Regions from separate parts of the Homo sapiens genome. Here region 2 is reported to be linked to region 1. Evidence: microRNA targets listed by miRTarBase, many of them from high-throughput screens and not tested one by one. Region 1 holds a microRNA gene; the other region holds the end of a gene's coding sequence.
Evidence for each region. Region 1 holds the annotated microRNA hsa-miR-3664-3p (UCUCAGGAGUAAAGACAGAGUU, at 870-891, shown strand). A microRNA usually pairs through its seed, bases 2 to 8, with sites in the 3' UTR of a target mRNA and lowers its output. Matches are read on the target gene's strand: a 7mer-m8 pairs with bases 2 to 8, a 7mer-A1 pairs with bases 2 to 7 and ends in A, and an 8mer does both.

Region 1 (3,414 bases):
GGGATGCCACGGTTGCTGTGGCAACGGCTCTTTGTTTTAGGGAACCACAAACATATCATTCTATAAACTGCAGGGCCCAAGCTGCAGGTTTCACCTTCCTGAGGGTCGCCACCCGGGAGGCAGAGGCACCAGGATGGACGTGGGAACTACCTCCGCTCTTCCTTTCTCACAGGTGCCCAGGATGTCTTTAGCTTTTGTAATGTTTGGGGCTGGGGGAGGTGGAGGTCATGAGTGTGGGGAGAGGGCAGACAGTGGATATGTGCTCCTCCTGCCCCGAGGAGCTGGGCTCTACAGGGCATCGTGGGGTCCCTTCCTCTTAGCAATCAATGCCATGTTCCACTGTGGCCCCAGACTCCAGCACCAAGCAAAGCAGCCCCCACGACCCTTAGGACAATGAGGGGTGAAAATTGCCACCCATCAGTTTTCAAGTGGTCAGTGTGGAGGAAAACAGGGACCCGCAGGTGGCCAGAACGTGGAGGAGATACACCAGGGAGCCGGAAGTAATGTGGTCCAGGGACCCATCTCTCATTCCACGTAGCTCACGGACCTGTGTGCCCCTGACTCTGGTCTGTGGGGGGCCCCTCTGTATGGGGGCCCCCTATTCCCTCCATCTGAGGGTCTCTCTTCCCTCCATCCAGCCACTTGGTCGTTTGCACCCACTGTGTCCACCAAGCGCTTCTAGGGAAGGGTCTTGTCCTTTTTTCTCCCCGTCCCGCCGAGCCTCCACCTCCAAGCCTGCATCCTACTTGTCTTTCCTCTTCATGCGTGTGGGGTTTTTTTCCCCTCCTTTCCACTGTGCACCCCGTCTCCTCTGTAAACTTGAAGGTAGGGAACTCTGTCTTCACTCATGAGTACCTTCCAACACGAGCTCTCAGGAGTAAAGACAGAGTTCCCTACCTTCAATGTGGATCTGCAAAAAGATCTGAAAAGCGAATGCCTTCTCCGTAGCTCGTTGGCAGTAGTACTTGACCTGAACTGATTTGAGGCTATTTATAGTTTTTATTTATCCTACTTAGCATGATTATTCATCCGTGCCCTGAAGGACTCCTCCCGCAATTGGCAATGGGACACTGCCCAGACCCACTGGCGGTGTGACGTAACAGGCCACACACGCATCATCCTACTGCTGCAGAAGCAGGCAGCGTGCACATGCCAAGGCACCTCTGGCTCTGGTGTTCAGGGATGTCGTCGTGGGGCTGTATTTGTTGAATGAACAAGAGTTCTTAATCCAAGAATAATGCTGGGTTTACCTTTCAAGTAGTTCAAAGGCTTCTTTCAAGACGGTGTTGTTATGGAGGATGGGATGCGTCTTGCCTTAAATATTAATAGAAATCGTATATGGAAATCTCAGACGGCTTCAAAGAGTCTCTCAGTCAAATTCAGATGGGGACTGTGCCTCTTTCCTGGCTGTCCCCTCCCAGCCCCCATGTGGCCACAGTTTGCTGTAAAACCCTGCAGGGCCCCTGAGTACCAGGTGTGTCTGGCCCGTGTTGCCTTTCAACATGAACTCTTTCTTGACTTTCTTCTCCATCAGGGATATGGTCATATTTATAATATTTGTCTCGACCTCACTTTCCTTTCTCTCCCTGCCCTGCTTGTTCAGCAAATGTGTTGGGGAATCCGCAGGGTCCCAGGCACAGCCTCTCCCTCCAGGGGCTCACAGGCTCCATGGCACACAGATGTGGCCTCAGCACGTGAAGGAGGCTCAGTGCCAGGCTATGTGGCTCATCTCAGAAGGTGGTGTGGCCCCAGGTTCTGTGGTTGCCCTTGCTCTGCTCTCTGCTCCCCACCCCCGCCCATCCTGCCCTGCTCCTATGGTGCCAGTGATCTTCGGGGCTGGTGGCTTGCAGAGCGCTCCCTGGACCTCCTCTTGGACCCTCAGACTCATCTCCTGCAGAGCCTGCCACCAGGCGAGCCCAGACCCCTGACTCCCCTTTGAAGTGTGTCCCTGCAAATGCATATGTTGAAGTATCACCCTGAGGATCTCAGAGTGTGACCTTGTTTAGAGGTAGGGTCTTTACAGAAGTCATCAGCTGAAAATGAGGTCATTAGATTGGGCCCTAATCCAGTAGGACTGATATTCTTATAAAAAGAGGAAATGGGACCGGGTGCAGTGGCTCATGCTTATAATCCCAGCACTTTGGGAGGCTGAGGCGGATGGATCACCTGAAGTCAGGAGTTCGAGACCAGCCTGGCCAACATGGTGAAACCCCGTCTCTACTAAAAATACAAAGATTAGCCGGGCGTGGTGGCGGGTGCCTGTAGTCCCAGCTACTTGGGTGGCTGAGGCAGGAGAATCACTTGAATCTGTGTGGGCGGAGGCTGCAGTGAGCCGAGATCGTGCCACTGCACTCCAGCCTGGGCGACACAGCAAGACTCCATCTCAAATAAATAAATGAATGAATGAATGAATGAAATGTGGCCACAGCCATGCACTCGGAGCAAACCTCACACAAAGATGAAGGCAGAGCTCTGGGTGATGCTTCTGTCAGTCAAGGAATGCCAAAGATTGCCTACAGGCCACTGGGAGCTGGAGAGACAGGCCTGGAACAGAGTCTCCCTGCAGTCCCCAGTGTGAACCCCCCCACTGCCAACACCTTGACCTCAGACTTCCAACCTCCAGAACCATGAGACAATTCATCCCTGTGGTTTCAGTCACCCAGGCTGTGGTTACAGGAGCTCCAGTGAACATACCCCATCTTTCCTGGCCAGCTGGCCCTTCCTCCTGGGCACCCCATCTCAGTTATGGCCCAGGAACTGAAAACCCAAAAACCTTCCTAGATCTTTCCTGGCGCTCACCTGCCCTTTTCCCATCTGTCCAGAACCAGCCCCTTCCACTTTTTCTATTTCCTGAATCTGCCCCTCCCTCCCCACTGGTTGGGCTCTCATTTTGGCCCAGATGGACTGCAGGAGGGGACGGCTCTGGGTCTCACCCCGGGTTCATTTCTCTCAGTCCCCTGGAACGAAGTGGAGCACACTCTGCCTGGGTGAGCCTCCAGCACTCAGATTCTGCTGCTGTGCTCATCCTCAAACCTCTTCCATAGTGCCCTGGGCCACACTCTCTTTATAAGGACACTAATTATTGGATTTAGGACCCTCCCTAATCCAGTATTACCTCGTCGCAACCTCACTGATCACATCTGCAAGGAGGCAATGACCCATTTCCAGTTAAGGCCCCATTCGTAGGTTCTGGGTGGACATGGATTTGGGGGGACACTCTTGTGGACTTTTGTGAGGGTTTCTGGGTGTGTGAGAAGGCAGAGCCTGGGGAGCTTCAGGCAGAGGGGAGGCATTCACATAATTGGTGGTGAGGTCCCTGCACTGACCCAGCGGCGACTGAGCACCCAGTGCGGCAGTAAGTGACCACAGTGTCAGTTCTCATCCCATCTTCCAACAACACCACCATGGACTCCC
Region 2 (3,414 bases), not on the chromosome of region 1:
ATCTTACAATTATAACCCCTATTGCAGTACAAAACAAGAAACAATAATTCTAAGTTAGCCAGCCAATCAAACTACTTCAGTAAATGATCATACTACAGCCTGGAATCACTCAAACAAAAAATTCTTCTAGTTCTCTTTAAAGATATTTATCGTTTATTTTTTCATGAAACCAAAGTAATTGATTCAACAATACTAACAGTTCTAGCATGCAACAAACCATCTACTATCTAATGTTTAATCTTCTTAACATGTATATTTTCATTCCTATAAAGTTTCCATAAGAAGCTTGCAATGACAATAAAGGTAAATAAGTACAGTTGTCCCTTGGTATCCATGGGGTATTGGTTCCTGGACCGTCCCCCCAACCCACAGATACCAAAAATCCAAGTATACTCAAGTCCCTTACATAAAATGACATATTTGTATATAACCAACGCACATCCGCCTGTATACTTTATCCCTAGACTAATACCTAATGCAATGTAAATGCTATTTAAATAACTGTTATACTGTATTTTTATTTGTATTATTTTTATTTTTTCTAATATTTTTGATCTGCAATTGGTTTAATCCACAGATGCAGAGTACATGGATACAGAGGGCCAACTGTTTTGTTACAGGTACTTCAAATAGCACTACAGTACATCTTTGACAAAATTTTTACAATATTCCACCTTTCAATATGAAACAGCTTAAAAAGGCATGGGTCAAAAATAAAGTATAGTAGTATCACTTACGCAAATAAAGTCTCAGAATCATACAAGCACAACACTGTTAGGACTCTCCCTGTTTAGGCTGGGAAAAACATTATACAAAACATTTTCTTCAAATAAAATTACATAAATTGCTTAGAAAAATGCCAAAATCAATAATTTCAAACATATTAAGGAGAAAACCTTGAACATTATTGGAAAATATAAACTAGTTATTCCTTGCTTTTAACAGATGAGTTCTTGACAAGTTTTGTGTAAAGCAAATTCTGTAAACCATTATCTTGCTTGCACTGGAGGAACATATCTCAAGGAAACCTAAGAGAAAGTGTTCTTTAAAGCATGTGATTCTCCTGTTTTTGCTGGATGTCTGTATCTACATAATAAACAGGCACACTTCTACATCACTGGGTATTTTACTCAGACTGTCATGTTTCATCTCTGTAAATTAAACCCAAGTTACTTAAAAATCACCTGTGGTAAAAGAAGCAAGCAGATCACCCCCACCTACTATCCCTCCCGCCTCCCCCCTGTCAAAAGAAAGTTCTCAGTTTATGATGCAAAACTTACAATTGTTCATTTATCCACATTCTCAATAGAGGATTTTCCACTATATTTAAGTATGGCAGGATAATTACCCACCTGTTCCTCTTTTCAGCTTAGAAACATAACGGTTCATTCCTTTTATTGCTAGAGAATGTCATTCCTGAAGATTTTATAAACAAAGGCAAATATGAAGGAAAATTTGTAATTATGAAATAAGTCCTTTGTAGTAAAGAATATTTCCCAAATCATAACAGTTCTATTTGGAATGATACCCACAACTCTACAAGCATCTTATCCCTCTACAGGAATGACTACCTTATTAATTAAAATAAAAATTTAACAAGCATCAAAATAAAATTCTTTAGCAATAGACTCCTGCAAAAATAAAAACTAAAACTAGACCTAGTCATTGCCATTTGATCAAACTTAGAACAGGCTTAAATAACAGAACCACTCCATTAAAGAGGCATAGAAAGAAAAGTTTACTAAAATAAATGTAAAAGTCTTATGGAGATGAAGATCTCTAGAATAGTCTTAAGTCTATGACTACTGCTATCATTAATGAGCAAATAAATGACTTGAAATTATTCCTCTGAAAAGGTAAAACTCATACGTATTATGAAAAAGACTATGGCACTTAGAAAATATTCCTGGTAAGTAAACATGGTAAATATAGGTACATCCTAGCCTCTCGCCTACTTTTAAATTATTTTGAGAAAGATAGCACTAGCTGGGAGAAAAAAAAAATCCTTATCACCTGAAGGTGAAATTACCACATAGTCCTAAAAATAAATAGCTTTGAAAAGACCGTCGGGTGCGGTGGCTCATGCCTGTAATCCCAGCACTTTGGGAGGCCGATGCGGGTGAGTCACAAGGTCAAGAGATCGAGACCATCCTGGCCAACTTGGTGAACCCCCGTCTCTACTAAAAATACAAAAATTAGCCAGGCGTGATGGCAGGCACCTGTAATCCCAGCTACTCAGGAGGCTGAGGCAGGAGAATCGCTGGAATCTGGGATGCGGAGGTTGCAGTGAGCCTAGATGGCGCCACTGCACTCTAGCCTGGCGAAAGAGTGAGACTCCATCTCAAAAAAAAAGACCAATGAAAATAATACTATAATTGTCTCATCCATTTTCACCTTTAGTGTCTCTGTAGTTTTTTTAACTTACAAAAAAAAAAAAAAAATTACCAATGCAATTTGAGTCACATGTGGACAAAATTATGCTTTCATATGAAATGTAAAATAAATCAAATATAACAGGGCTATGTGCTGCAGCTAAAAGCCAAGTTTTGCCTCTCAGTCTTTTGAGTATATCTAAAAAGAGATGGCATGTCTTAAGGAATAATTCCTTTAAAAAATGAATGAGGCTAAATTATTTGTACAGCCATCATGGATTTATATTTTTCAATACAGCCAAAGTATATGTTTACAATATTAAAATGCCTACTTTATAGCATCAAATCATGTTCTTGCCTCTAAAATTAACTTGGCTGTTTCTAAAACATTGTATTAATTTTCTATGTATTCTACCTCCTTACTATGCAGGACAAGCAAATGCCTGTGAAACCATTCAGTTTAATGCAGGCCTTTCAATAAAAATGCATTTTAAATAATACAGGCTTTAAAAATAAGATCACCAGAGACCACAATTGTTAGTGGTTGCGACAATTTACATAACCGAATCTAAGGCAACCACTTTCCCTTGTGGTCGTTCTTTAAAGTGAGTAAGCTGATGTCTCTTCCAGTGAGGAGCCTGTCTGAATGTTTTGCCACAAACTGAGCATTCAAATGGTTTCTGCCCTGCATGAATTAGGTAGTGTCTTTCCAGTTTAGATGGAGATCGGAAACTTTTAGCACAAACACTGCATCGGTACAGGAAGACATCATTTTTCTCCTGATGCTCTGAATAACTGCAAAAAGGATTGCTTTGCTCTGATTCCAAAAGTACATTAGGAAGACAGGGTTGCCCGGTGCTACCAGGAATAAAATCCTGTGACTCTGCCTTAACTCCTGACATTTGATCTGACTCTGAGACCTCGTATTTTTGAACACCAGGAGCCTGACATTGTTGGGAAGCATTATAGTTAACATTATTACCTGAATGATTAGAAAGATTGTTGAAGTTTCCAAATTCTACTTGGCAAAGAGATGCATAAG

Region 2: miRTarBase lists ZNF770 as a target of hsa-miR-3664-3p. Seed matches in the 3' UTR shown: 7mer-m8 at 2,235-2,241.

The regions. Positions count from the first base shown.
Region 1 is chr11:70,869,766-70,873,179 of GRCh38, reverse strand. MIR3664 (microRNA 3664) reads left to right here and starts at 812; the gene lies at 812-910. All of the region lies in intron 11 of SHANK2 (SH3 and multiple ankyrin repeat domains 2), which reads left to right.
Region 2 is chr15:34,978,433-34,981,846 of GRCh38, forward strand. ZNF770 (zinc finger protein 770) reads right to left here. Exons shown (of 3, transcript NM_014106.4): 3 at 1-3,414. The coding sequence ends at 2,927. Among named protein-coding and RNA genes, the nearest start is that of ZNF770, 8.1 kb to the right of the region's middle.